Homo sapiens: one gene and its partners. The protein of the gene in region 2 purifies or fractionates together with the protein of the main gene of each other region. This does not show direct contact. Each region holds a gene or a part of one and is shown on either strand. Other genes may lie near its edges.

Region 1 (3,794 bases), on a different chromosome or scaffold from region 2:
GGGAAACTGAGGACAAGGCGCAGCTGGGAGGACTCAAGGTTGCCAGCCTGGCTCAGCTCAGACAAGGTCCCTCTCAGTCACCCTAGAGCTGAGGTCCACAGTCTGTCATTTGACTTTGAATAGGTTTTGCTCTAATTTTCCCCCATTCTTCTGACACCCTAGGATATCAGAGCTGGAGTGGACCCCAGAAAGATTTTCTTCAGCTGCTTTACTTTCCCTAAGAGGAAATGAGCCCAGAGAGGCCAAAGGAATTGCCTAGCTCCTCATAGGGAAGAGACAGTGGAACTGGAACCAGAACCGGGACTCAGGGGAGACTCTGTCCTAAGCCCAGTTACCAGCCCCAGCCAAGCGCTGTCCTTCTCAGGTGGCCACTGGCACCTAGAAGTTCAGGCTGGCAGTGTGTTAGGAGCAGGCTGGAGAAGCAACTTCTGCATCCACAGGATGGGGAAGATAGGCCCTTTATCCACACACACACACACACGTACACACAGAACGGCCCGTGGCGTGGGCCGCTGGATAGGCATCAGTCTGAATCTCTCCATACCCAGAGGCAGCCTTTGCCACTCAGCATTGCCATGAGGGCTCACTGACTTTACTGAGAACATAACATTTCCAAGGATTGAGGAGAAAGTTTAGAAAGTAGATTTTATTCTGGAAACCACAGGAAATAAATCAATCTAAAGATCTGCTGGGGTTTTGGAGCAGTGGCTCATGCCTGTAATCCCAGCACTTTGAGAGGCTGAGGCAGGTGGATCACGAGGTCAGGAGTTCAAGACCAGCCTGGCCAACATGGTGAAACCCCCCCGTCTCTACTAAAAATACAAAAATTAACTGGGCGTGGTGGCACACGCCTGTAGTCCCAGCTACTCAAGAGTCTGAGGCAGGAGACTTGCTTGAACCCGGGAGGCGGAGGCTGCAGTGAGCCAAGATCATGCCACTGCACTCCAGCCTGGGTGACAGAGCGAGACTGTGTCTCAAAAAAAAAAAAAAAAAATCTGCTGGGGCCAGGCGCGGTGGCTCATGTCTGTAATCCCAGCACTTTGGGAGGCTGAGGCAGGTGGATCACCTGAGGTCAGGAGTTCGAGACCAGCCTGGCCAACATGGTGAAACCCCATCTCAACCAGAAATACAAAAAAAAAAAAAAAATTAGCCAGGCATGGTAGCAGGCACCTGTAATCCCAGCTACTCAGGAGGCTGAGGCAGGAGAATCGCTTGAACCTGGGAGGCAGAGGTTGCAGTGAGCTGAGATTGCACCACTGCACTCCAGCCTGGGCGACAAGAGCGAAACTCTGTCTCAAAAAGAAAAAAAAAATCTGCTGGAATGGTACATCAGGTGAGGGCTCTGCAGGAGTCTTGGGGCAATGCTGAGGCCTTGATGTTACCAGGTCCTGAACTTGCCCCAGGCCCAGGGCAGAGTTAGAGCTTGACTCAGCTGTGGCTCTGCGCAGTCCTGGACAGAGTGCAGAAGGGGAGTTGAGGCTGAGAACCTGGGTTTAACCAAAACTTGGACTCCTAGAGCACATTATAAGAAAAACAGAACAGGCCAGGCGCGGTGGCTCACGCCTGTAATCCCAGCACTTTGGGAGGCCGAGGCGGGTGGATCACGAGGTCAGGAGATCGAGACCATCCTGGCTAACACGGTGAAACCCCGTCTCTACTAAAAATACAAAAAAAAAATTAGCTGGGCATGATGGTGTGTGCCTATAGTCCCAGCTACTCAGGAGGCTGAGGCAGGAGAATGGTGTGAACCTGGGAGGCGGAGCTTGCAGTGAGCCCAGATCGTGCCACTGCACTCCAGCCTGGGCGACAGAGCGAGACTCCATCTCAAAAAAAAAAAGAAGCAGAGCAAAGCCTGTTGAGTACGTTGCACCTCTCACACAATGGCCTGGCTCTGTAAATCATGCAGGGGACATATTCTTGCCCATGTTATTTCATGCTAGAGCTGTGTGTTTATCATCAGTCATCAGCACCAGCTCTCCAGCCAGGTGGAGGAAAGCTCAGGCAGGGGGTGGATGGCCCACCAAGCTCTGCCTCGAGGGCTTCACCAAAAAGTTCTCCCCCCAAAAGCCAGGATGAAATCCTGGATGCTGTGCTGTGGACCCAGCAGTGCCAGAGACAGCCCCGAGCAGCTCCATGCATAGCATGTTTGCTGTGTCCCTGGCTCTCATGCTCCCCTGGTTCTTTCCTTTCTTTGGACAGTATTACACAGTTTTCAAACCAAATTGTAGTGTATTTTTGCACTTCAAAAACACTGATTGTTGGTCCTTTGGAAGCTGGAACGCTGAAATTCCGTCCTTCTCATCCTCTTCCGTGGCGTTTATTGGCCTAGTGAAAGGAAACACTCTACACTCCCTAGGTTGTCCATGCTTTGTGCCTTATCTTTCCTGCCCACAAGTGGTAACCCTGGGTGGTGCAGCTGCCTCGCAAAAGGAAGAGCACATTTTGGATTGTGGCAGCCTGTCAGGAGGAGCATGTGGTCAGATTGGAAGCCATGATCTTTTCCTAATGGTCTTAGCAACTTTCCTTTGTGCTGAATGATAATATTCAGACCTTTGGATTGTACAGTACTTCAAGGATATATGGGACCATGGCTGCCATGACTTAATAATTGAAATGCTTTTGAATCATGTTTATTTTAGGAGGTTGTGGGGCGATGTATGAAATTAAAATTGAATCAGAAGAATTTAAGGAGAAGAGAACTGTCCAGCAGCACCAGATGGTTAATCAGGTCAGTAGAGGCAACAGTGCCCCTTGCCACTGGCCTTCAGCCTCCAAAGGGGCCTGCCAAGCAGGGATGGTGGTTTTTGCCGTCAGTTGCAGGAGAGAATAATGCAGTACTGCAATCACGAAACAGGACTCAAGACCTGAGAAAAATCGAATCTGGGAGTATCTGCATTGTGGCAAATAGGAATTTTATTCAAAATTGAAGACAGGCCTCCCAATAGTGATTTTGTATGTCCTCGTATAATGCTACCTATGTTTACTGTTATTGTCACATATTGATGAGTATATCTAAACACAGACACTGCTAAAAGATACATGTTTTTGTAGATCTGAAGAGGGGTTTTTTGGCCTCTCTTTGGGACTGCTTTACAGATGAGTCAGTTGATGCATGGCATGAGTGAGAATGGCTGCAGCTGCCCCAGACCCAATGACAGAACATTTGGGTTCTGGAACATCACGTTCAACCAGCCTAAGGCTCAGTTTAAATATTATCCATATTTATTTTAATTTGGAATTTATACCAACTTTGACCCTTGTACCTGTACCTATGAATTTGCCCCCTCACTGGGTGTGTTTGGCATCGTTCTGGAAGGTCTTGCCATTGTGAACTAGTGTTATTTTTGTAAAGCACAGCACTGGTAATGAGCGTCTCTTCGGTGGCCTCTCATGCATTGAGTTCAGGTGTCCTAGACTGCTGTTCACGCATTTCCCCCCACCCTTCTCTGCGTGCACCCTCCCAGCCGGCCTCTGCCCGCTGGTCTCTCTCTTTCTCTATCTGGGCCTTTGCCCAGATTGGACCTTCTGCCTGGGTTGCCCTTCCTCCCGTCCTCCACTCAGCTCAAATGCTGCCTCCCCTCCCTCCCCAGCAGGGAATGAATGCCGTTCCCCCACCCTCCCCGGCCCCCTTTTTTGGCTGTCGGTGTTTTCCGTCTTGTGTCCTGAAAACGGACATCTCTGCTGTCTGACCCTGCAACCTGTCAGCCCTTTGTGGACCAGTGCCCTTTGGGATCCATCTTTGTGTTTCTCATGGAACGTAGCCCTTTGCAGTGGATGTGACCCCTACAGCCCTA
Region 2 (4,298 bases):
TTTGAGACCAGCCTGGCCAACACAGCGAAACCCAGTCTCAGCTGGGCGTGGTGGTGTGTGTACCTGTAATCCCATCTACTTGGGAGGCTGAGGCAGGAGAATCGCTTGAACCCGGGAGGCAGAGGTTCCAGTGAGCCAAGGTCTCCCCACTGCAATCCAGCCTGTGCGACAGAGTGAAACTCCATTTAAAAAGAACAAAAACAAAAAACAAAACAAAAAGGAAACAGAGACCTAGAAGTGGTATTACAGCAAAGGTTTTGAACATTTTAAGGCTTTTGAGCGCCAGATTCAGACACTCAGTAGTTTTACATGAGAGTGCTACAACATCCTCACTAAGTAGTATTTGGGTTCATCATAATTTTAAATTATTTTGGTGTGTCAATTTGAACACTAGAGTGATATAAAAACTAAAAACTTGAATTCAATAATTTTACAATTGTATTCCATCTTAAAATATTTTATGGTAAACTTGGATAAAGTATATAAATAATCCAAGGGTGTAAAGTAGAAAGTGAAAGCTCCCTTCTCCCAGTTCCAGCCCCCTGATGTTGCCAATATTAAACGTTGTATATCCTTGCAGACACGCATCTTTGATTTTTGCCCTCATGTACATTACTCATTTAAAAATTATTTCGTTGAGTAGATTCCTAAAAGTAAGACTGCTGTATTATATGATCTTTTTAAAGTATGTTGCTAAATTTCCCCTCCCTTCTCAAAAAATTCCAATTTGCACAAATATACATGCATACATGCACACAGTACATTAAGGTGGATACCAAGGATAAAACATGTTCTCTGTTTCTGAAAATAGAGAAAAGACCGGGAAGAAGTTTAAAGTTGGCTTTCAGCCCACCAATAGAGATAACACTATATAACACCATTAACCATGTGGTGCATGTAATTTAGATATACATATAATTTTATTTATTTATTTATTTTTCAGACAGGGCCCAGGCTAGAGTGCAGTGGCAGAATCACGGCTGACTGCAGCCTCGAGCTACCGGGCTCAAGCTATCCCCCCACCTCAGCCTCCCGAGTAGCTGGGACTACAGGTGTGCTCCACCAGACCCGGCTAATTTTTAAAATTATTTGTAGAGGCGGGGTCTCGCTATGTTGCCCAGGCTTACTATTTTAAAGTAGATGTAGGATACAAATAAAAAAAAAAATCTCCTTCCACGTAGGTAAAGCAGGAAATACCGTGCCTTGTTAATAAGTAATTCCCTCATGATCCTTTTCCCCAGGAACTTGGGTGAGAAATCATAACCTTGTCCTGATCTTTCTAAACAGCAATTTAGCATTTTCATCTCCCTGGCAACCCAAGGCGCCTTGGCCTTGGTCTTCCGAGTGATTGACAGTGACCCCACCCAATAAAATCTTTTTATTTGTCGTATCTAACCAATCTAACCCCTAGCGCAGAGCTAGGGGGCGTTCCCACCGGTGCGCGGGCGAGCTGAGCCTTCCTTACGTCTGCTGTGCGTCATCAGTCCGAGCCAAGGGCACTATTGGCCAGTTCCGTTCAACGAAGTGGTTGCTTTTTTTAGTTCCGGCAATGAGTTGCGCCGGGGCGGCGGCGGCTCCCCGCCTTTGGCGGCTGCGCCCGGGGGCCCGGCGGTCCCTCTCAGGTAAAAGGAGGCGCGCAGTCACAGTCCTGCGCCGGTCTAGCGAGCTAGGGAATTTTCGCTTGAGGTTTGGGTCGAAGAGGTCACGGGGGAGAGGTTCGTAACGTCACAGGCCTGCGACGGAGCGCGACTGCGTGACTTCGGCCTCCGGGGCGCTGGCGGGCGGGGCGGGGTCTGTAGTTAGCGGCGAGAGTGACAGGAGGACAGGGGTTGTTTCGGCAGTGACGCCTGGGGAGTGACGCAATTGCACCCCTGTGCAGTGATGTCACGGCAGGTGCGGCCAGCGTTCCGAGTCGAGGACAGTTGGCGACACTGAAAATTCAGCGTCTCCGGGAGTCTCTCTCTTTGTAGTCTTTGCCCAGGGCCTTGCCAGGCAAAGGGTAGCCCGACGACCAGCAGCCTCCGCTACTTCTGGGCGCTCGCTAGAAATACAGATTCTCGGGCCCCACCCCGACCTACTTGGTCGGTATCTGTGATCTGTGAACAGGACCTTTAGGTGATTTGCATGCACTGTAAACTGTGAAAGCCATCAGTGTAGTGGAAGGAGCATCGAATTTAGAGTAGAGAGACATGGTTTTGGACCCTGGTTCCTGCTTTCCTTGTTTCATCTGTGCTGCCTTAGAAAATTGTCATGAGCCCGGGCGCGGTGGCTCCGGCCTATAATCTCAGCACTTTGGGAGGCCGAGGCTGGAGGATCCCCTGAGGTCAGGAGTTTGAGACCAGCCTGGCCAACATGGTGAAACCCCGCCTCTACTAAAAATACAAAAATTTGCCAGGCGTGATGGCAGGTGCCTGTAATCCCAGCTACTCAGGAGGCTGAGACAGGAGAATCGCTTGAACCCGGGAGGCAGAGATTGCTTTGAGGCGAGATTGCACCACTGCACTGCAACCTGGGCGTCAGAGCGAGACTTTGTCTCCCCCGCGCAAAAAAAAAAAAAAAAAAGAAATTTCATGAAGTCGTTTTCTCAACGTTAAATTACCGTGTACCACTTTCGGGATTTTTGCCTAATGGCAGTACTGCTTGAACTTTTGATTACTAGATGTGTTTTTTTGTATAGCTATGTCCCATTTAAAAATTAAATTAATTTCCTTGAAACAAAATCCTTATGGTGAATGGGAAGCCAGTGCCACTTGCCACAAATGGGTGAGTAATCATTAAAAAAAAACAAACAAATTAAAAAGTTATGAAATTGTATTAAATACTGTCTTTCTGTTACAAAGGGGAAATTAGCAAGTGTTGGGAAAGTGTTAAGGCTATACCAGCTGTAAATGGAGTTATCTTCCTTAATGAAAGAGATTGCAAGAGATTTTGAAAGAGTACCCCTTACTACATGGGGTTATTTGCTGCATATCCATAAGCCACTTAATATTTTGTAGGTACCACACTGGCATGTTTCACACTTTGGGAAAATATGGACATAAAGTGATGCATTTGAGAGCTAGCACCGAGCCTCAATTTTACTTTAAAGTATATGGTAATGCAGGCAAAACTCCGAGGGTTGTTGAATGTGAATTTTAATGCTGCTCTGTTCAGCCAGTGAGCATAACAGAATAAGACTCATTTCTGTTTATAAAGTTACTTTGCTTCTTATATCTTATTTTATCCTCATAACTCAGTAAGAAAAGTTTATTATTGTATGTTTTCCCTTAAAAAGGAAAGAGCCTGATTATTGCCTTTTTTTTTTTTTTTTTTTGAGGCAGAGTCTTGCTTTGTCGCCCAGGCTGGAGTGCAGTGGCGCGATCTCAGCTCACTGCAACCTCCGCCTCCTGGGTTCAAGTGATTCTCCTGCCTCAGACTCCCGAGTAGCTGAGGCTGCATGCATGCACCACCACGCCTGGCTAATTTTTGAATTTTTGGTAGAGACGGGGTTTCGCCATGATGACCAGGCTGGTCTCGAACTCCTGACCTCAAGTGATTCTCCCTCCTTGGCTTCCCAAAGTGCTGGGATTACAGGCGTGAGTCGCCGCACCCAGCCAATTTTATATGTAAGAAATGTCGATCCTGATTTTCCCAAGGCTAGTGTTAGAGATGGGACACATGTTTTATGCTTCTTTTTTTCTTTTTTTGAGACAGAGTCTCACTCTGTCACCGAGGCTGGAGTGTAATGGTATGATCTTAGCTCACTGCAGCCTTTGCCTACTGGGTTCAAGTGATTGTTCTGCCTCAGCCTCCTGAGTAGCTGGGACTACAGGCACGTGCCACGATGCCTGGCTAATTTTTATATTTTTGGTAGAGATGGGTTTTCACCATTTTGGCCAGGCTGGTCTTGAACTCCTGGTCTCAAGCAGTCCACCTGCCTCAGCTTCCCAAAGTGCTGGGATTACAGGCATGAGCCACCACACCCGGCCTATGCAGTCTCTTTAGTCAGATATGCTCAGTGAGATGGAGAGGATCATGGCGAGGAGTAGACCAAAGCTGGGTCACTATGCTTCAGAACTTAGGTCCACGCTTCTTTGTTAAAAGTGTGACATTTACAACCCCATCTGGTAGAAGATTTCAAGTTCAGAGCCACCCCAAATTTCACCAACCCACCTCACTACCTTGTGTCCAAAGCACTCAAGCCTTTGTCATGAAAGAACCACATATGTATCTAAAATGAATTTTTTCCACATATTCGCTGGCTGTTGAAGTTAGCCTAAGTGAAAAGAAGTTTGCATAAAAGACATGGTAGTCACGGC
Region 3 (3,794 bases), on a different chromosome or scaffold from region 2:
GCTTTTAAAATTGACTAGGGAAGTTCTCTCAAACTGCCAGTCCATGAGATATTGTATATTTTCTATCTGAAAAACTTTTAATCTCAGAATTCTTTAAAAGAGCTCTCCCTGGGGCTCCCATTACTTACTTGTGACTCCCAGTGGAAATCGTACCCAGCCCCTCGAGAGGGGCTGAATCTGTTGGGAGTGGGAGGGTAGAAAAAATGCTGCAGCTTCTTGTGGGTATCCTTCACACACAAACACCCAGTGCCCCAAGCACTGTGCAGTCAAACATCAACCCCACTCAGACTTTCCTCCTTGGGATTGAGAAGCAATGGATTATAGAGAAAGAAAGGTGGATTAGCACTCCAAAACTTTGAAGAGTAATTGACCAAGACCCCCAAAGCCAAAGCTGTGGGCATCCCCACTTCCAGTATACCCTGTACCAACACGTAATGGCTACTAGATACAGGGGCACTAGTACCTACCTGTCTGCTTGGCTACCTGCCCTCTTTGCAGAAGTGGTGAAGGGAATCACTCAACCTCAGAAAGGGAAAATGGCTTTCTCATTTTCAGATTGAAAGAGGTTGGCAGTGGGTGAGGAGAATAACAGGTAAGGATCTCTTTTAATATACCCATTTGAAGCCAAAACCTCTGTTTAGACATACGGTATTTTGAACCTGGTGATTATTCATTGCCCATGTTTGTGAATTATCAGAAAGCAGAATTCTTGCCAGGCATAGTGGCTCATGCCTGTAATCCCAGCACTTTGGGAAGCCAAGGTGGGAGGATCACTTGAGCCCAGGAGTTTGAGACCAGCCTGAGCAACATGGTGAGATCCTGTCTCTACAAAAAATTCAAAAATTAGCTGGGCATGGTGGTGTGCACTTGTGGTCCCAGCTACTCAGGAGGCTGAGGTGGGAGGATTACCTGAGCCTAGGAGGTTGAGGCTACAGTAAGCCATGTCTGTGCCACTACACTCAGCCTGAGCAACAGAGCAAGACCCTGTTTCCCACCCCTACCCCCCCAAAAAAAAGCAACCTGAATTCTTGAACTCCCTGCAACCAGGTCACCCAAACCAAAGGTAAAAGGAACATAAAAAAGCCTTCTGGAAAGTGTACAGAAATTCATTGCAGGGTGATTTTTGTCTTGTGAAATCATAGTTACTGTTATTAGCAGGTTTTTTTAACGTTTTATATTCATTTTTCATGGTGTTCTGATGTACAAGCTGCTTCAAGTGTTTTTGGACATAGCTTGGATGTAAAATGTAAAAAGTGGATATTTTCAATTTGTAGCTTTCTTTTTTGAAGCTTACTTAAGTTTGTTCTAAATATAACCCCTTCTTTCTCACCCACCCCAACACATTTTTTTAAAAACACCACCAGGTATCCGTTACAGCACTGATGTGAGTGTAGATGAAGTAAAAGCTTTGGCTTCTCTGATGACATACAAGTGTGCAGTGGTTGGTAAGTGATCGCCTTTCTTGCTGCCTAATGAGAACTCTGGGGAAATATGTTTACACACATGTTACTGTTAAGATGCTGTAGAAATATACCTTATCAGAACTGATTTTTTTTCAAGTTGTAATCTTTAAGACCTGCATCATTTTTCAATTAGTCTAAATTAAGATATAGCCTTTTTTTTTTACATGGGGGATTTTTTAAAATAGGAGATAATTGGATTTTAAGTCTAGATCTTTGTTTTCAATTCCTCAACACATTCTGTAAATAAGACCAAATTATAGTAGAAGGAGAGTAAATAAGCTATTATCTTTTAGAAGTGGTAAAGAGCACTGATTAAATATATATTAGAACTTGGCTAGCCAATTTTATTGAACAATTTCTGTTCAACAAAATGTTGTTTAAAGTACAGTTTAGAAAATGATGGTAGGTTTATTTCTTGAATTTTCAGAAATTCAAGCTTAAAGCATCACGTTTCTCTAATATTGTGTGGTGCTTTCTGTCATTTTACTTTTTTAACATTTATATGGAATAGCAACCATCAGCCTTCTCTTTCAGATGTGCCGTTTGGGGGTGCTAAAGCTGGTGTTAAGATCAATCCCAAGAACTATACTGTAAGTATGAAAGTGATATTTGTTTTTTATTGTTGTTGTTGTTTTTGTTTTTCTGAGACAGAGTCTTCCTCTGTTGTTCAGGCCGGAGTACAATGGCGCAATCTTGGCTCACTGCAACCTCCGCCTCCCGGGTTCAAGCAGTTCTCCTTGATCCAGTAACTGGGATTACAGGTGCACGCCACCATGCCCGACTAATTTTTGTATTTTTAGTAGAGAGGGGATTTCACCATGTTGGCCAGGCTGTTCTTGAACTCCTGACCTCAGGTGATCCACCTGCCTTGGCCTCCCAGAGTGCTAGGATTGCAGGCATGAGCCACCGCACCCGGCCTCAAAGTGACATTTGTGCACACAGTGCATTTATGAAGGACTTGAAATTACTGGGCTTCTCTGTATCCCCCACTATCAGTGAGATCAGTAGTCCCCATTGCTTTTCAAATGGAATAGAAAAATGTAAAGAATTAACTCATAGCGTGTTTTGCCATATAAAGATCACCTACTTAATATCTATATCCTTTATCATTTTCTGTTTCATTTGGTTTTGTTTTTATGAGTCTTTTGTTTTACTTTTTTGCTTTTTGTTTTATTATTTTCTTACTTAGTTAAAACGTAATTAATATCTTCACTTATATACTTATACCCATATTTATATAATGTCTTCACTTAGACACTTATACCCATATTTAAGAAATACTGTGATCTGATTAGCCAGGCATAGTGGTGCACACCTGTAATCCCAGCTACTCGGGAGGCTCAGGCATGAGAATTGCTTGAACCCAGGAGGCAGAGGTTGGCTGAGATTTCACCACTGCATTCCAGCCTGGGTAACAGAGCAAGACTCTGTCTCAAAAAGAAAAAAGTATTACTGTGATCTGAAGTTTTTATGTCAGGATCTGATTCTAGTGACACATATCTTAACTAAGACTATAAAAACCTTACTTTTTATCCAGTCAGTTCCAAGTTAATTCAAACTGATTGTCACAATGCTTTACATAATACTAAATTATCTATATACAAACATAAATGCATGATTTTTATTCTCTTTAAAATTCACCATTTAAATGGAATATAATTATATTTAAATTAATCTTAATTAAGATTTAGTGTATTTTTCAGTGGGGAATTAATAGAATGGGAATTTGAGCCCTAGTTCTACTATCTTGTTTTTATAACCTACTTTTTTGATCCCTTATTTTGTCACCTTTAAAATGGCAATGCCTACTTTATGAGTTGTTCTAAGGATTACATGAGAAGACATATGAAAATGTACTATAAATAGAAAATAAGATGCTAGCTATAATCTCAAGCGATTTTTATATCAATTTTTTCTTTTGTTTTTGTTTTCTTATTTTACAGGATAATGAATTGGAAAAGATCACAAGGAGGTTCACCATGGAGCTAGCAAAAAAGGGCTTTATTGGTATGTGTAGCCACATAGTTTTTGGTATAAAGTGGGAACATCTAAAAATTTTTTTTTTTTTTTGAGACGGAGTCTCACTCTGTTGCCCAGACTAGAGTGCAGTGGTGCGATCTCGTCCGCCTCCTGGGTTCAAGCAATTCTCTTGTCTCAGCCTCCCAAGTAGCTGAGATTACAGGCATGTGCCACCACACCCAGCTGATTTTTGTATTTTTACTGGAGATGGGGCTTTGCCATGTTGGTCAGGCTGGGCTTGAACTCCTGACATCAGGTGATCCACCCATCTCGGACTCCCAAACTGCTGGTATTACAGATAGGAGCCACTGT
Region 4 (3,794 bases), on a different chromosome or scaffold from region 2:
CAGACCCTGCGGTGTGGCCTTAGATCCCGCGCTCACTTCTGTGCCTTGCAGTGAGTAGTCTGATAGGAAAACAGACTTTGGCTGGAATACGCTGGCAGAGGAATGGCCCAAACCGTAGCCTGAAGGCTGTTCACTGCTGTTTCTTTGACTCATGAATCCATGGATTTGACATGGAACAGTGATGTCGGTGATAACTAACTTAGTAAATTTGATTAACTTAGAGAGTTGTAGTCTAGTTCATGGATGTCAGTAGAGAAGCCGTGCTGCTCCGTGGAGGAGGTTGACGCTCATGTCTTCTCCGTTGGTGTCTGCGTATCCCTGGTTCAATTCTGGATGTGGTCTCTCTGTTGGCCCCTGGGAGTGGAGCCTTTGGGAGGTGGCCTCCTGCTGCTCCAGGCCCCTCTGCCTGCAACCCTTTCACCTTAAATGTCCTCTTGATTTGACAGATTAATGACAAGAAAGTGCAGAAAGAAAGGTTAAAATATTTTCTTTGTACCATATAACAAGGCTACCTTTTCCTTGACTGTCTGAAAATTTATTTTAATATTTTCTTAATTTCTTTTACTCACTTTATTTCTTTTTTTAGTTTTTGTTATTTTGAGACAGGGTCTGTCTCTGGCACTCGGGCTGGAGTGCAGTGGTGCCATTACAACTAGCTGTAGCCGTGACCTCCTGGGCTCAAGTGATCCTCCAATCTCAGCCTCCCAAGTAGCTGGGGCTACAGGTGTGCACCACCATGCCCAGCTAATTTTTAAAAATTTTTTGTTGAGATGGGAGCTCACTACATTGCCCAGGCTGGTCTCAGACTCCTGGACCCAAGCAATCCTCCCACCTCAGCCTCCAAAGTGCTGGCATTATAGGCATGAGCCACTCTGCCCAGCCTATTTTTATTTTTTTTAAGCGTTTATTATTTAAAACACTTACACCTGCCCTAACACTTGTTATTAGCTGTGTGAATTTTATAAACTCTGTTACTTCTTATATATTTCAAGTGAGTTCTGGATTTTTCTCTTTTCTCTTGGAAACTTGATTTTCAGAAACCTGTGCCCAGCAGCTCTGGTGGAGATGCCCACGTTCCCCATGGCTCCCAGGTCATTAGGAAGCTGGTCATGGTAAGAACCACAGCCCATCCGGGTTGCCAGCGGGTGGGTGCTTCCCTGCATGGCTGTGTCTGCCACTGATGTTCGAATGTTCCTCCGTCCGCCTGTCTGTGGGGCTGGCGTGTCCCTAGAGTTGCGAGTTCAGTGCATCCTTTGTCACTGCCACCCTGAGCCTTTTCTCTCTCAGACAGTACTGAGTGAAGGCCCTGGTGGGGGTGTGTCCTCCTGTGCCGAGGAGGGCCCTGGTATGGGGTGCGTCTTCCCTGTGCCCAGGAAGAGGGCTACTGCTCTGGGTGGTCTCCTCCCGGGCAACTCACCCTTCTTTGAACGTAGCTCCCGAGCTGAGTCGATGCCAGTGGAGCGGTCTGACAGATCCTTTCCGCGACTCAGCCTGGTGCTGATGCTGTTTGGTTTGGTTCCTTGTGGAGTAGAGTGATTTAACACATTCCTATGATATAATATGATATGAAATATAAATATGTAACTGTGATATAAACGGCGTAGAATGAAATGTTTTTAATTGAACAGTATACGTTAAGGCATCACGTCAAGATTGGAGGACTTCATGTCAGTTTTACAGTGAGAAATTGTGTGGAGTGACGGAACTGCAGTGCCTTGCTCTCGCGCCCCAGCACCTGGCTGCAGAGTGTCACGGAGATGGGACCCCTGAGATGGCTCCAGTCCCAGTGCCGTGGGCAGTGCGTGGGAGCACAGCCGCCTCTGACCCCTGAGTGGGTCCAGTCCCAGTGCCGTGGGCGGTGCATGGCAGCACAGCCGCCTCTGACCATACCGTGTCCCTCAGGAACCCACCTTCAAGCCCTGGCAGATGAAGACTCACTTCCTGATGCCCTTCCCGGTGAATTACGTGGGTGAATGCATCCGAACTGTCCCCTACACGGACCCAGATCATGCCAGGTAGGAGGGTGTAGGTCGGGACCTCTCAGGCCTGAGCCTTACGGAAGAGCTTGTCAAGGCTGTTCGAGTTCACAGGGCGTGTTTTAGCACAGGAAAAGTCTGTGCTGACTCTGAGTGTTGGACCTGGGGCTGTGTGAGTCTACGAGTGCTCCTCTTTAACCAGCAGTCTTTGTGAACAGAGACCCAGTTTTAGAGCCAGTCATTTTTGTAAACAATTTCTATTATTGAGGAGTCCTATGAACAATACAGATACCTATGACCTTAAACACAGACTGCTTTCAACATGCCCCATGTACTCACCTCATCTCTAGGTAAAAATCGAATGAATTTAGGCTGAGATTTCTGATAAACATGGTAGGTTAAGCCTTCATGAGGACAGATGCGTGAATGACAGCAAAGGCAGATCAAGACACGAAGCTACAAGGGAAAGAGTGGGAGGTGACCCGGAGAGCCATGGGGGCTGCAGGAGAACCTCGTGAGCCAGACTCTGGGTGGGTGGGGGGTGCCTGACCTGGGGCCACAGAGGGACAGGGCAGTGGGGAGAAACCAGGTGGTCCTGCAGAGCCCTGCAGATGGCAGGGCTGGAGGCCGCCTCACAGTCCCTCTAAGGAGTTTGTCTCCCCTGTCTCCCCACCAAGTCAGAAGCTCAGGGAAGGAGGCCCTGGGTTGAGCAGCCGAAGCCACAGCCAAGAGTCAGGGTCAGGCCTGTTCCCAAAGTGGCGTGGGGCGAGGGAGTTTGCAGCCTACAGACTGGCCCTCCAGCCCCTTCTTCCGAACTCTGGCTGCCCCTTGGCTGTGTTCATCCCATCTGGGGAAACTGGCCAGACCAGGACAGACTCACAGACGTGCACCTTTGGGGACCCGTCAGTTGGGTGTGTATGACACAGATATGTGCAAACATGTTATATCCCGGAAATTCACTTCCTGTGTCCTTGTCCCAGGCAGCTACCCCCATGAGGGACTAAACCAAGGAGTGAGCCTGGTAGAGAGGGGGAAGGCAGGCTTAGGCCTGGGCAGCCTGTCCTGATTGGAGAAGGAGCCGGGCCTCCGAGGTGCACGTGTGTCACAGAGGGTCACAGATGGGGAGGTGTGTAGGAGGCAGGCGGGAAGAAACGTGGGGCTGCAGTGGGGGCCCAGAAAGAGCTGGCTGTAGAAGTATGTGGTCAGCTGTTTTGTTCATTTATTTCCATATTTGTAGAAGATGAACAGATCTGTCTGCTATGCCGGCAGAAGAGTGGTGTCTGTTTCCACTATCCAACAGGAAAATGTAGACAGAAAACACTAAAAATGTGGAGGTTCCCCCTGGGCAGTGGGATTCCAGATCTTTTTTTCCTTGTGTTTTGTATTTTATAATCTTTCAAAAGTGAGCATGTTTTTAATATACAAGTAATAGAAATTTCTCAGGAAGGATAATGTGTGGACGGATGGAACGCCATCCCTGCCGGTGCTGGTGGAGACTCCGTCCCCCAGGGTCTGACTCCAGCCTCGCTAGTCCCGGCTGACGGCGCCCCAGCCACCCGAGTGGCGCTGGGTTTCTCCTGGAGGACCCACACGAGATGGTCGTGACTTCTCCCACCACAGCCCCTGGGAACACGCCCACTCCTTCCTTGATTTCCCACCTGGCCTATTTGACTCCCTTCATCCACTTTAGGAAAAGGCCTGTCTGTGGAAGCGGCGACCTGGGGCTGATCTCACCACGGGCGTCTTCAAGGAGCCTGTGTCTGTGCTGCAGACCCTCCCATCATTGTCTGCCCCGCCTTCTGTCGGAGGTGGATGTGT
Region 5 (3,730 bases), on a different chromosome or scaffold from region 2:
ACCCAGTGGATCCTGCACCAGGGCCGCAGGCGGAGCACTCCTCAGCCCTTGGGCAGTTGATGGGACCAGGCGCCGCCGAGCAGGGGGTGGCGCTCCTCGGGGAGGCTCGGGCTGTGCAGGAGCCCACGGCGGCGGGGGGAGGCTCGGGCATGGCAGGCTGCAGGTCCCAAGCCCTGCCCCACAGGGAGGCAGCTGAGGCCCGGCAAGTATTCGAGTGCAGCACCAGCGGGCCGGCACTGCTGGGGGACCCGGTGTACCCTCCGCAGCTGCTGGCCCAGGTGCTAAGCCCCTCACTGCTCAGGGCAGGTGGCGCCGGCCCACCACTCCGAGTGCGGGGTCGCCGAGCTCACACCCACCCGGAACTTGCGCTGGCCGGAGAGCACTGCGTGCAGCCTGGGTTCCCGCCCGCGCCTCTCCCTCCACACCTCCCTGCAAGCAGAGGGAGCCGGCTCCGATCTTGGCCAGCCCAGAGAGGGGCTCCCATAGTGCAGCAGCAGGCTGAAGGGCTCCTCAAGCATGGCCAGAGTGGGCTCTGAGGCCAGCGAGCAAGGGCTGCCAGCATGCTGTCACCTCTCACTTCCTTCTCTCTCTCTTTCTTTCATTTTTGAGACAGGGTCTCCCTCTGTCACCCAGGCTGGAATGCAGTGGAGCAATCTCAGCTCACTGCAGCCTCCACCTCCTGAGCTCAACCCCTCCCACCTCAGCCCCTACCACCTCCCCTCATCCTCCCACTTCAGCCCCTCAAGTAGCTGGGACCACAGGTGTGCACCACCATGCACAGCAAGTTTTTTCACTTTTTGTAGAGGCAGGGCTTGCTATGTTGCCCAGGCTGGTCTCGAACCCCTGATCTAAAGCGATCCTCCTGCCTCAGCCTCCCAAAGTGCTGGGATCACAGGCATGAGCCACCGCACCCAGCCTCCTGCTTTCTTTCTGCATCTCCCTCTGTTCCTCCTCTTGTTCATTTGTTCATTCATTTGACAAACATTCAGTGACACAGTCCAGTGCCAGAGCCCCCTCCTGGGTGCTGCAGATGTGGAAACGGGAAGCAGCCCCGATTCCTGACCCCTTGCTCTCATAGAGATCATGTCTGAGAACAGAAAAATGGGGCTTTTTTGTGGCTGTGCCGGGCCCAGGTCCTTCATCTTTCAGCTCCCAGCTGAATGTGGCCGTCTTATCTTATTTTCAGCAGCAAGACCCCGAAGGCCAGAAGGAAGAAACGGCAGGTCATGCAGTGACCCAGTGATAGAGTAGAACTACTAATTAGAGAAAGAAAAAGGTGGCCACAATTATGTAGCACTCATGGTGTGTGACGCCCCTTTCTAAGCACGTTAAACATATTAATTCTAATCACAGTCCACAAGACAGGTTCTGCTATAAGCCCCATTTAAAGGTGAAACAGATCCAGAGAGCAAGAAACTTACCCAATAATCACAGCTTGTAAGTGGCAGAGCTGGGATTTTGGAACTCATGCTGCCTGGCTATAGAGTCCTTGCTCTTAGCTGCTAAATGTCTGTCATCTGAGTAGCTGGCATGCTGGTTAAAAGTAAGGGGGATTGCCGGGCGCCGTGGCTCACACCTGTAATCCCAGCACTTTGGGAGGCTGAGGCAGGCGGATCACGAGGTCAGGAAATGGAGACTATCCTGGCTAACACAGTGAAACCCCGTCTCTACTAAAAATGTAAAAAATTAGCCGGGCATGGTGGCAGGCGCCTGTAGTCCCAGCTACTAGGGAGGCTGAGGCAGGAGAATGGCGTGAACCCAGGAGGCGGAGCTTGCAGTGAGCCGAGATCGCGCCACTACACGCCAGCCTGGGCGATAGAGTGAGACTACATCTCAAAAAAAAAAAAAAAAAAAAAAAAAGTAAGGGGGACTTTGGCCTCAGGCTGTGATCTGGATCCTATTTCCACTTGTCTTTTCACCTCTCTGTCCTGCCATTTTCTTTTCTTTTTATTTTTTATTTTTGAGCCAGGGTCTTGCTCTGTCGCCCAGGCTGGAGTGCAGTGGCGCGATCATAGCTGACCGCAGCCTGCAACTCCTGGGCTCAAACGATCCGCCCACCTCAGCCTCCGAAAGTGCTGGGATTACAGGTGACCATGCCCAGCCTCATGTGCAGCTAATTTTTTCATTGTTTGTAGAGAAGAGGTCTTGCAATGTTGCCCAGGCTGTTCTCAAAATCTTAGCCTCAAGCCATCCTCCTGCCTCTGCCTTCCAAAGTGCTGGGATTGCAGGTGTGAGCCACTACGCCCAGCCCCAAAATATACTTTTTTATTCATTTGTTTGCCTCCCCATGAGGACAGGGACTGTTGTCTGTATTGATCATTTATTGAGCAGCTCGTGTGCGCCAGGCCCTGTGCTAGGCCCAGGGGATGCAGCAGTGGACAGAAAGACAAAAACTCCTGTGTTCTCAGAGCTCACATTCTAGAAAGGGAGTCAGACCCTCAAGCAGATAAGGACCTAATTATAGGATAGCAGCTGTGCAGCCCGGAGGTAAGGCGGGGTCAGGATGCGGGGGATGGGGCCATCGTTGAGCCAGGTTGGCCAGGGAGGGCCTCTCTAGGAGGTGACCTTTGAGCTATAGCTGAAGGAAGTGAAGGAGTCAGTCTGTGGCTGTTGAAGAGGGAGGGATGGTTGTCAGCCCAAAGGTCCTTGGCTCCCTCCCTCTCCTCTGGGTCTTTACTCAAGGTCACCTTCTCAATGAGAAGATTCTGTACCACTGCACAGCCCTCAGGCAGTGATCTGGATCCTATTTCCACTTGTCTTTTCACCTCTCTGTCCTGCCATTTTCTTTTCTTTTTATTTTTTATTTTTGAGCCAGGGTCTTGCTCTGTCGCCCAGGCTGGAGTGCAGTGGTGCGATCATAGCTGACCGCAGCCTCCAACTCCTGGGCTCAAATGCACGTGCCCGCACACACACACACACACACACACACACACACAGAGTTGGAGACCAGTGTGCCCAAAGTAACAGGTTGGGAACAGTGCACACACACACACACACACACACACACACACAGAGTTGGAGGCCAGTGTGCCCAAAGTAACAGGTTGGGAACAGTGTTCATGCAGGGTAGTCATGACAAGGACGTTCCATTTTGTTCTAAGAGCCACAGGTGGGAAAAAGAGGGTCTGGGCCGGGCACGGTGGCTCACGCCTGTAATCCCAGCACTTTGGGAGGCCGAGGTGGGTGGATCACAAGGTCAGGAGTTTGAGACTAGCCTGGCCAACATGGCAAAACCCCGTCTCTACTAAAAATACAAAAATTAGCCGGGCATGGTGGTGGGCGCCTGTAATCCCAGCTACTTGGGAGGCTGAGGTAGGAGAATCACTTGAACCGGGAGGCGGAGGTTGCATTGAGCCGAGATCCTGCCACTGCACTCCAGCCTGGGCGACAAGAGCGAGACTCTGTCTGAAATAAAAAAAATAAAATAAAAAAAAAGAGGATCTGACCCAAGAAGGTGTCCACTGGCTTCCCCTGGCTGCCTGTAGGGAATAGACTGGGGACACAGGTGGAAACAGGGAGAGCAGGGTGGGCTCATGGAGAACAACTGATGCAGGAAAGGTCAGATTCAGGATCATCTTGAAGTTGGAGCCACAGAAATTGCTGCATCGTGAGATGTTTCTCATCTCAGGAAACATCACCACCATTGACTGCATTGCTCACGCTGCAGACCTTGAGTCCCAGGCTGTCTGGCATCTTGGGGAAAAGCATGGCCTCTGGAGCCAGCTGCATG
Region 6 (3,794 bases), on a different chromosome or scaffold from region 2:
GGAAAAGTCAGAATTAGGTGAAATTGTTAACCTGGGACAAGTTCCTGGGAGATACTGGCATCTCTTGTACTAGGAAAAGCACGTTTTGAGAATCATGGGTCTGGGTCACTGCCTTTGAGCTGGGAACCTCAGCAGACAGGATGCAGGGGCCTCAGCTTGGATGAACAGACCCTCTAGGAACACTGACTGGTCCTTCTCAGGCCTGATGGAGACAGACTGTGGGGCAGGGCTTAAGGATAGAGGGCCAGGATTAGGAAAGGGGGCTTGTAGGCCTGGCCAGGCACAGAGGTGTAGTTTGTTAAGGAAAGCCAGTCTCCCTCAGTGGGGAAGCTGCAGCCTGGCCCTAGAATCAACTCCAACACTCAACACCCAATGCCAGCCAGGCTTCAGTCTTGGACCTGACCACAAGTGACCCATGACATACCCTGACCCCACCACAGCCTGGGTCCTACACCCAGCCACTAAGTGACCACTGACCCCAGCTGCTGACCCTGGACCCAGACCAGGCCTGGCTGGGACTCCTACTTGGCCTTGATCTCAGATGTCCTGAAGCAGTATTTCATTGGTCACTGTGGGACAGCTTTTGCAAGTGCAGTCCAATCTGCTGACATCACATCCCACCCTCTCTCAAAACTACCAGACACCAGGACAGAGTGACAGAGGAGGAGACCGGAGAGGAGAGCCAGTCCAGTCAGGGCCCAAACATCACACCAGAGGCTCTAACAGAGAACTGAATACAAAGAAGTGTTCCTTGGGTATTGAAGAGTGGAAGGCAGAGAGCCCAAAGTTATTGGGGACAGCGACTGCAGGAAGCAGCTGCCACTGTAAGGCTAAGATAAAGGAGGACGCTTTAACTATAAAAACTTGGGAGCTTGGGCCTGTAATCCAGACCTGTGAGGAGGGTGTGCTGGTGACGGGGCAGGAGGAGGGGCCCTGCAGGCTGTATCTGGTCCTCTGGGGTGTGTGTGTGTGTGTGTGTGTGTGCACGCATGTGTGCATATTGAGGCTAGTTCTGCAGATGATGGAAAAACTGATTTAGCCATTGCTCTGAGAAGGAACGACTGTGACTGGGATGAAGAAGCTGGGCTGGGGGAGGCTCACAGGACAGGAACCCACTGGACAGAAAGGAGTGGGGATGCCCTGTTGCCCTTCTTCCCCTTCTTCCTCCATCAGGGAACAGCTGACAAAGCAGAAATGCCATCTGCAGGGGGGCAGTCCCCATCACAGAGTGAGCAGTAGAGGGGGCCGGAAGACAGTAACTCAGTGACGGGGATGGCAAGGCCTCAGGAGAGGAATGAGGGCAGAGGTCAGCCATCTGGGTTCTGGAAGAGGGAGGCACTCAGAGGTCCTGGGGTTCAGCAAAAGTCAGGATGCAGGCAGGGCAGTCCCCAGAGCCTCATGCTTGGCTGGTGCATCCGTCTGTGTTGCCCAGTGGAGCCTGGCTGGGGTGTGGGTGAGGGGGCAGGAATGGAGAGAAGTCCTATGAGCTGCTCTGCTGGGAAGGCAGAGGTGGCTGCGTGTGGGTGGGTTATGGAGAGGGGCCAGTTTCTTATCCACCGTCCCACAGGTCTGGAAGCTGAGAAGGATGGAGTGCCGGTATTCAAGTACTCCCGGTGGCGTGCAAAAGGACAGGCTTTGCCTGATGTGGTGGCAAAATACCAGGCTTTGGGGGCCGAGCTCAACGTCCTGCCCTTCTGCAGCCAATTCATCCCCATGGAGATAATCAGTGCCCCCCGGCATGGCTCCATCATCTATCACCCGTCACTGCTCCCTAGGCACCGAGGGGCCTCGGCCATCAACTGGTGAGATGGGGCAAAAACACAGGGGGCCATCCCCATACATGTCCCTCCATCAGCCTGACTTGTCACTTTCCATTAGCCCAAAGCATTTCTAGGGCTGCAGAGTGGGCATCGTGCAGGTGCCTGTCCTGTGGCTGCCAGATGTCAGCCACAGAACAGGCTGTGCAACGTTATCAATGAGTGAAGGCTCTAGAGCACTGGGAGCAGGTGTTGCTAAGCACTCTGCATTCCCACAGTTATTGGAGAAGCTGGCACTGTCAGTGTTCCCATCCCCCAGCTGAGACAGAGAGGGCACCAGAAGGCGCAGGGACAGAGAGGGCACCAGGAGGCGCAGGGGCCAGGGTGCCACCCCAGGCGGTGGGCTGGGGGTCCTACTCTAACTTCCACTGCCGCTGCTCTGGGCAGCACACTTCGTAGAAAGAGATAAAGATGGAGCAAAGGATGGCCTCCACAAGGTACTCTGAGGGGACAGAATTCCCAAGACAACAAATGGGGTGACAAGGCAGATGGGTGGTCAAAGAGGGAAGACATTTGAGTTGAGAAAAGAGAGTGGATTTGTAGTCGGACTGGTCTGTTGAGATTCAGGCTCTCTGATCTTTGTGGGTGTCGCTTCACTTTTCTGGGCCTTAGTTTCCCTATCTGTAAACCGAGTATACCTGTTATCCCTGCTGTGAGGACTCAGTTACATAAGGCATATAGAGCTTTTAGCACAATTCCTGGCCCATGGTTGTTATCAATACATGCTGTTTTCCTTCTTCCGTTTCCCGCCGGAGCCGGTGTCAGTCCTACCCCTGGGAAGAGAGGGCCTCCTGGAGGGTGGCAGGTCCACGGGCCTGTACCCAGGACATCCTCCGTGGCCCTTCATCGTGGACTCCAGGTTTCACTCTTCTGCTTCCTAGGACCCTCATTCACGGAGATAAGAAAGGGGGGTTTTCCATCTTCTGGGCGGATGATGGTCTGGACACCGGAGACCTGCTGCTGCAGAAGGAGTGTGAGGTGCTCCCGGACGACACCGTGAGCACGCTGTACAACCGCTTCCTCTTCCCTGAAGGCATCAAAGGGATGGTGAGGACCTGGAGCCGGCCGCGCCCTGCCCGCCCCGACGCACCCTCAAGCATCCTCCCTAGACCCAGCCCACCGCTCCTGGAGGCCAGGAATCTGTTCCCCAAATTCAGGATTCTGGAGGGAGAGGAGCTCTCACTTCAAGGTTTCAGAGGCAGGATTAGGACAAACAGTGTATTGTATTAGGAGGGAATCTTGCTCACAACGGACAGAACCCAGCTCAAAAAGCGTTTGGCAAAAAGGGGACATTTTGGGGCCCGTTCAATAGACAAGGAAGGCTAAAGGCAGGGACTGGGTCACACCCTGCTGAATCCAGGAGCTTCAATTATGACATCGTTAGGATTCTATTTCTCTCTCCTTCACTCGTTGATTCTCCTTTTCTCTGTGTGATTTGTTTCATTCTCAGTTTGGCTGCCCTGAATTAGAGGAAAGATAGCCACTATAGCTCAAGGATTCTAATTCTTGATTCCAGGGAAAGAGAAACACTTTTTCTCCTAGAATTCATCAATCACAAATCAGGGGAGATTCTGATTGGCCAGCTTGGGGGTCATGTGATCCTCATGAGCCAATCACCAGCTGGGGTGATGGAGTGCTCTGATAGGCTGTCTCCGTCACATGCTTCCTGCTGGGAAGGCCGTGACCTGTGGTCACATGGCCTGAGCGGCAGGGCGGCTCAGTCACCTGGGCAGCTGGTACTGCTGAGAGGCAGGGTGGCAGGCTATGGGCCGGAGCCCACAGCTGCAGGAGGGGCCCGGGGATCATATGTGAGGGCTGCTTGCCCCTGCCCGAGGACAGGCTGGCAGGGACGGCCACAGGCAGAGGTGCTGTCCAGGCATGCAGCAGGAGGGAAGGAGGCCCTGGGGAGCCCTTGCTGTTTGGGCGCAGCAGGAAGAGCAGCTGCAGTGTCCACTGTCCCCTCGTCCTCCTCAGCTC
Region 7 (3,794 bases), on a different chromosome or scaffold from region 2:
GGGAGAGCTTTGAGGTGGGAGCACACACTGGACCTCGTCCTTCCCACTCCCCATATTGCTGACCATGAGCCGCTGGGGATTCATGTCTGGGCTCTGAACCCCTTTAGGCTGGTTCTTCGTCGGATCCTGCGTCGAGCTGTGCGTTTCTCCATGGAGATCTTAAAGGCACCACCTGGCTTCCTAGGCAGCCTGGTACCTGTAGTGGTGGAGACACTGGTAAGGACAGAGCTTCTTTTTCACTCTGGGCCTCCCTGGGCACTTTGGGGAGCCTACCACTGAGCCTAGACAGTGCCCCCAGCCTGGGTGCCCAGAGGTCCCCACCCTAAATATCGAGCCCAGCATCCTATCAGCAAGCTAAGAAAGCTGTCCTTGCTTACAAGAAGCAGGAGAACTTGAGGAGGCTCCTTTTCCAAACTGCTCAGCCCTTGACCTCAGGACCCCCTTCTGCCACCCTACAGGGAAACCAGTTCCCCATTTGAGTCCCTCTCCCAGCCCCTCAATGTGTCTGAGCCTCCAGGGCAGGTGTCCTCAGGGAGGCCCAGGGTGGGGAGGTGGGGGTGGGTTGGTTGCCTTTCACACCTCCTCAGCCCTCTCCACCTCCCCCAGGGAGATGCTTATCCAGAACTGCAAAGGAACTCAGCCCAGGTACTGGATTCCAGTGGGAGAGAAAGGGGTTGATGGGAGAGTTGTGGAGAGAGACCCTCCTTCCAAGGAGACCCAGCTCCACTTCTTCTCTGCCTGGTTCAGATCGCCAACCTGGTGTCAGAGGACGAGGCAGCCTTCCTGGCCTCCCTGGAGCGGGGTAGGCGGATCATTGATCGGACTCTGAGGACCCTGGGGCCTTCAGATATGTTCCCTGGTAAGCAGGATACCTAGCCCATGCACAAGGGGCTCGCTGAGACTCACCAAGGTGGGCAGAGGAGGGAGCTCTGGGCCAGCCCCATGCCTCATATCCACCCCTGACCTCTTCCCAATGTTCCTTTCTCCCTGGACTCTCCTTCCATACCCAGACCCCTCTGCAGCAGGAATACCACCCTGCCTCTCCCCATGTCCACAGTGCCCAGCTAGCCCTGCCTCCTGCTTTCCTAGGTTGGCTTCGTGCATAGACTGAGCTTCCCTCCTCCCTTGAAATGATGTGTGCCCAGGGAGTACCCTGGACTACCCCCAGCTCTGGCCTTGAGGCATGAAGCCTGAATGTGACCCCTCTCCTGAGGCTACCCAGTATGGAGCGGGTATTTGTGTTTGGCATCTGGTGGCTTCTGCGTGGTTAGAAGGGCCCTGGACCTTATTTTTCTCCCCTTCTTTGTCTAATCCCTCCCCTCCTCAACATTCTTTGTCTTTCTTTCTCAAAGCTGAAGTGGCCTGGTCCTTGTCACTGTGTGGAGACCTGGGACTCCCCTTGGACATGGTAGAGCTGATGCTGGAGGAGAAAGGGGTCCAGCTAGACTCCGCTGGACTGGAGCGGTTGGCCCAAGAGGAGGCCCAGGTACAAGCTGTGGCACCCCATGCTGGGTTCTGTTAGGACACCTCTTCCCCAGCCCTGAGCTCCTGGGGGAGGAGCTGTGAATATTGAGAGGAATCAAGAGGCTGAGATAGGATCTGTCCCCTCACCTGGGAGGTTTCTAAAACCTCAGGCCACAACCAGTAGAAAGCAAAACTAGCCAATGGGCTAAACACAGGAGCAGAAGCCAGCACAGCTTCCTGGAGAGGGGCCCTCCAGGGGCAGCAGTGGGCAGGAAGGCCTAATCCCGAGGAGCCGACATGATGGATGGTTCAACCAGCTCAGGGGCTCTAGCAGCCAGCCAAGCCCTGAGTTCTTATTCCAGAAGGGCTGCAGAGTCCACAGCTGTGTGGCAGGGACAGGGCCCTGCGAGGCTGAAGTCCCACTTTCATTCTTTCATTCTCCATGCACTTCTTCCATGCCCATGCCCACCCTGCAGCACCGGGCACGGCAGGCTGAGCCAGTTCAGAAGCAGGGATTGTGGCTTGATGTCCATGCGCTTGGGGAGCTGCAGCGCCAAGGAGTGCCCCCAACTGACGACAGCCCCAAGTACAACTACTCCCTGCGACCCAGCGGAAGTTATGGTGAGAGCCTGGACCAAGGCCTGCCGCCACAAGCTTGCCTGACCATGACTAAGAAGAATGTCCAAGATGGTTGCTGCTAGCCCCTATGTATTCCCCAGGATGGCCACCAGGGGTCTCTGTGGCCCCCAGCTGGAAGTGCCCCTGCCAGCGGGGGTGCTTGTTGGCCTCCAGGCACAGACCCACCTTCACGTCCCCAGCCCCTGCCCACCACTAATAACCATTCTGTGCCCTGGCAGAGTTCGGCACCTGTGAGGCCCAGGTGTTGCAACTGTATACAGAGGACGGGACAGCAGTGGCCTCCGTGGGGAAAGGCCAGCGCTGTGGCCTCCTCTTGGACAGGACCAACTTCTACGCAGAACAGGGGGGCCAGGCTTCAGACCGTGGCTACCTGGTGCGGGCAGGGCAAGAGGTGAGTCTCCATCACAACCCAGGCTGATTTCTGTGGGCGGCAGACCCAAGCCTGAGTGGGAGCCAAGGGGAGGGAAAGGCTACAGGCACCTTGACCACTACCCTCCCTCAGGACGTGCTGTTCCCAGTAGCCCGGGCCCAGGTCTGTGGAGGTTTCATCCTGCATGAGGCAGTAGCCCCTGAGTGCCTGCGGTTAGGGGACCAGGTGCAGCTGCATGTGGATGAGGTAAGGATCCTCCCTAACTGTTCCCAATACCCTGCAGCCCCTTCACTCTCCCAACCCCCTGCCCTCACCCAGGACGCTGGGTGACAAAAGTATTTCAGGCCTGGCGTCTAGGCTGCATGGCGAAGCATACGGCCACCCACCTGCTGAACTGGGCACTGAGGCAGACCCTGGGCCCTGGCACAGAGCAGCAGGGCTCCCATCTCAATCCTGAGCAGCTGCGCTTGGATGTGACCACCCAGGTGAGCCCGGCATAGAAAGACAGGCTTCATGTGAGGTGACAGGCATAAAAGAGAGACAGCCTGCTGTGAGCGGGTTGCCCTTAGAGTCCTGGGCTCTAGGCCCAGCACGGCCACCCAATCACTATGGGACCCTGGGCAAGTCCTTTCCCCTTGGGCTCCTTGTGCAGCAGTGAGGAGTCAGGCTACAGAGTGTCTGGGGCCTCGCCCAGCTCTGATGTGGGATCCTGAAGGCCCTCCAGCAGGGGCCTTCCCTTCACCTCCAGCCGCTCCCCTTCCTTGTTTCTACTGTCATCCAAGCCATTCTTGCCTAAACTGGGCTGCCCTCTCCCTCTGCTGCCACCCTGTCTCCCTGCGCTTCTTACACATCTGGCTTAAATCCTTTCTCCAGGAAGTACTTGCTGGCTAATCCCCATCCCACCTGCTTATTCCCTGCCCCTGCATCCCCCCATCCTGTAGTTCTCTCTTCCATTGGGCTACCCCTTGTAAGCTCCATGTGGATACAGCCTCCTTTTTCTGTTTCTTTAACTTTTGGTGCCTGGTGAAAGGCCTGGAGCTTCCAATAGGCCCAACTCCCAGATAGCTTTCTAAGGAAAATAATTGTCTGCTCAGGTAGTGTTTATTGAGCACCTATTATGTGCTAGCCACTATTCTAGAACCTGGGGATAGCTCAGTGAACATTGACCGTGTTTCAATGCATCAGTTAGAGGTGTGGGGCTGACTGCATGTTGGTCTTTCCATTTCCTCCCCACCCCTCCAGACCCCATTGACCCCAGAGCAGCTCCGGGCAGTGGAGAACACTGTGCAGGAGGCCGTGGGGCAGGATGAGGCTGTGTACA

The links.
Region 1: the proteins of COQ7 (region 2) and BOLA3 purify together in Homo sapiens (affinity purification with mass spectrometry; one large-scale study listed by BioGRID and IntAct). This does not show direct contact.
Region 3: the proteins of COQ7 (region 2) and GLUD1 purify together in Homo sapiens (co-immunoprecipitation; one large-scale study listed by IntAct). This does not show direct contact.
Region 4: the proteins of COQ7 (region 2) and PITRM1 purify together in Homo sapiens (affinity purification with mass spectrometry, with the first as the bait; one large-scale study listed by BioGRID). This does not show direct contact.
Region 5: the proteins of COQ7 (region 2) and ECH1 purify together in Homo sapiens (affinity purification with mass spectrometry; one large-scale study listed by BioGRID and IntAct). This does not show direct contact.
Region 6: the proteins of COQ7 (region 2) and ALDH1L1 purify together in Homo sapiens (co-immunoprecipitation; one large-scale study listed by IntAct). This does not show direct contact.
Region 7: the proteins of COQ7 (region 2) and AARS2 purify together in Homo sapiens (affinity purification with mass spectrometry; one large-scale study listed by BioGRID and IntAct). This does not show direct contact.

What each region holds. Positions count from the first base shown.
Region 1 is NC_000002.12:74,141,206-74,144,999, reverse strand, and holds part of BOLA3 (bolA-like protein 3), read left to right. Parts: intron 1-2,639; coding exon 2,640-2,728; intron 2,729-3,794. UniProt on the Homo sapiens protein: Acts as a mitochondrial iron-sulfur (Fe-S) cluster assembly factor that facilitates (Fe-S) cluster insertion into a subset of mitochondrial proteins. Probably acts together with NFU1.
Region 2 is NC_000016.10:19,066,116-19,070,413, forward strand, and holds the start of COQ7 (NADPH-dependent 3-demethoxyubiquinone 3-hydroxylase, mitochondrial), read left to right. Parts: upstream 1-1,498; 5' UTR 1,499-1,549; coding exon 1,550-1,622; exon of another isoform or gene 1,623-1,715; intron 1,716-1,791; exon of another isoform or gene 1,792-1,893; intron 1,894-1,901; exon of another isoform or gene 1,902-2,115; intron 2,116-2,531; exon of another isoform or gene 2,532-2,732; coding exon of another isoform or gene 2,733-2,763; intron 2,764-4,298. UniProt on the Homo sapiens protein: Catalyzes the hydroxylation of the 5-methoxy-2-methyl-3-(all-trans-polyprenyl)benzoquinone at the C6 position and participates in the biosynthesis of ubiquinone.
Region 3 is NC_000010.11:87,074,227-87,078,020, reverse strand, and holds part of GLUD1 (glutamate dehydrogenase 1, mitochondrial isoform a precursor), read left to right. Parts: intron 1-1,364; coding exon 1,365-1,445; intron 1,446-1,997; coding exon 1,998-2,053; intron 2,054-3,406; coding exon 3,407-3,470; intron 3,471-3,794. UniProt on the Homo sapiens protein: Mitochondrial glutamate dehydrogenase that catalyzes the conversion of L-glutamate into alpha-ketoglutarate. Plays a key role in glutamine anaplerosis by producing alpha-ketoglutarate, an important intermediate in the tricarboxylic acid cycle.
Region 4 is NC_000010.11:3,141,610-3,145,403, reverse strand, and holds part of PITRM1 (presequence protease, mitochondrial isoform 2 precursor), read left to right. Parts: exon of another isoform or gene 1-433; intron 434-1,037; coding exon 1,038-1,112; intron 1,113-1,417; exon of another isoform or gene 1,418-1,548; intron 1,549-1,628; exon of another isoform or gene 1,629-1,902; coding exon 1,903-2,015; intron 2,016-2,315; exon of another isoform or gene 2,316-2,432; intron 2,433-3,634; exon of another isoform or gene 3,635-3,794. UniProt on the Homo sapiens protein: Metalloendopeptidase of the mitochondrial matrix that functions in peptide cleavage and degradation rather than in protein processing. Has an ATP-independent activity. Specifically cleaves peptides in the range of 5 to 65 residues.
Region 5 is NC_000019.10:38,818,184-38,821,913, reverse strand, and holds part of ECH1 (delta(3,5)-Delta(2,4)-dienoyl-CoA isomerase, mitochondrial precursor), read left to right. Parts: intron 1-3,730. UniProt on the Homo sapiens protein: Isomerization of 3-trans,5-cis-dienoyl-CoA to 2-trans,4-trans-dienoyl-CoA.
Region 6 is NC_000003.12:126,156,413-126,160,206, reverse strand, and holds part of ALDH1L1 (cytosolic 10-formyltetrahydrofolate dehydrogenase), read left to right. Parts: intron 1-31; exon of another isoform or gene 32-124; intron 125-1,567; coding exon 1,568-1,802; intron 1,803-2,698; coding exon 2,699-2,864; intron 2,865-3,794. UniProt on the Homo sapiens protein: Cytosolic 10-formyltetrahydrofolate dehydrogenase that catalyzes the NADP(+)-dependent conversion of 10-formyltetrahydrofolate to tetrahydrofolate and carbon dioxide.
Region 7 is NC_000006.12:44,303,345-44,307,138, reverse strand, and holds part of AARS2 (alanine--tRNA ligase, mitochondrial), read left to right. Parts: intron 1-63; exon of another isoform or gene 64-107; coding exon 108-216; intron 217-606; coding exon 607-645; intron 646-747; coding exon 748-859; intron 860-1,352; coding exon 1,353-1,486; intron 1,487-1,940; coding exon 1,941-2,085; intron 2,086-2,321; coding exon 2,322-2,494; intron 2,495-2,605; coding exon 2,606-2,719; intron 2,720-2,817; coding exon 2,818-2,958; intron 2,959-3,715; coding exon 3,716-3,794. UniProt on the Homo sapiens protein: Catalyzes the attachment of alanine to tRNA(Ala) in a two-step reaction: alanine is first activated by ATP to form Ala-AMP and then transferred to the acceptor end of tRNA(Ala). Also edits incorrectly charged tRNA(Ala) via its editing domain.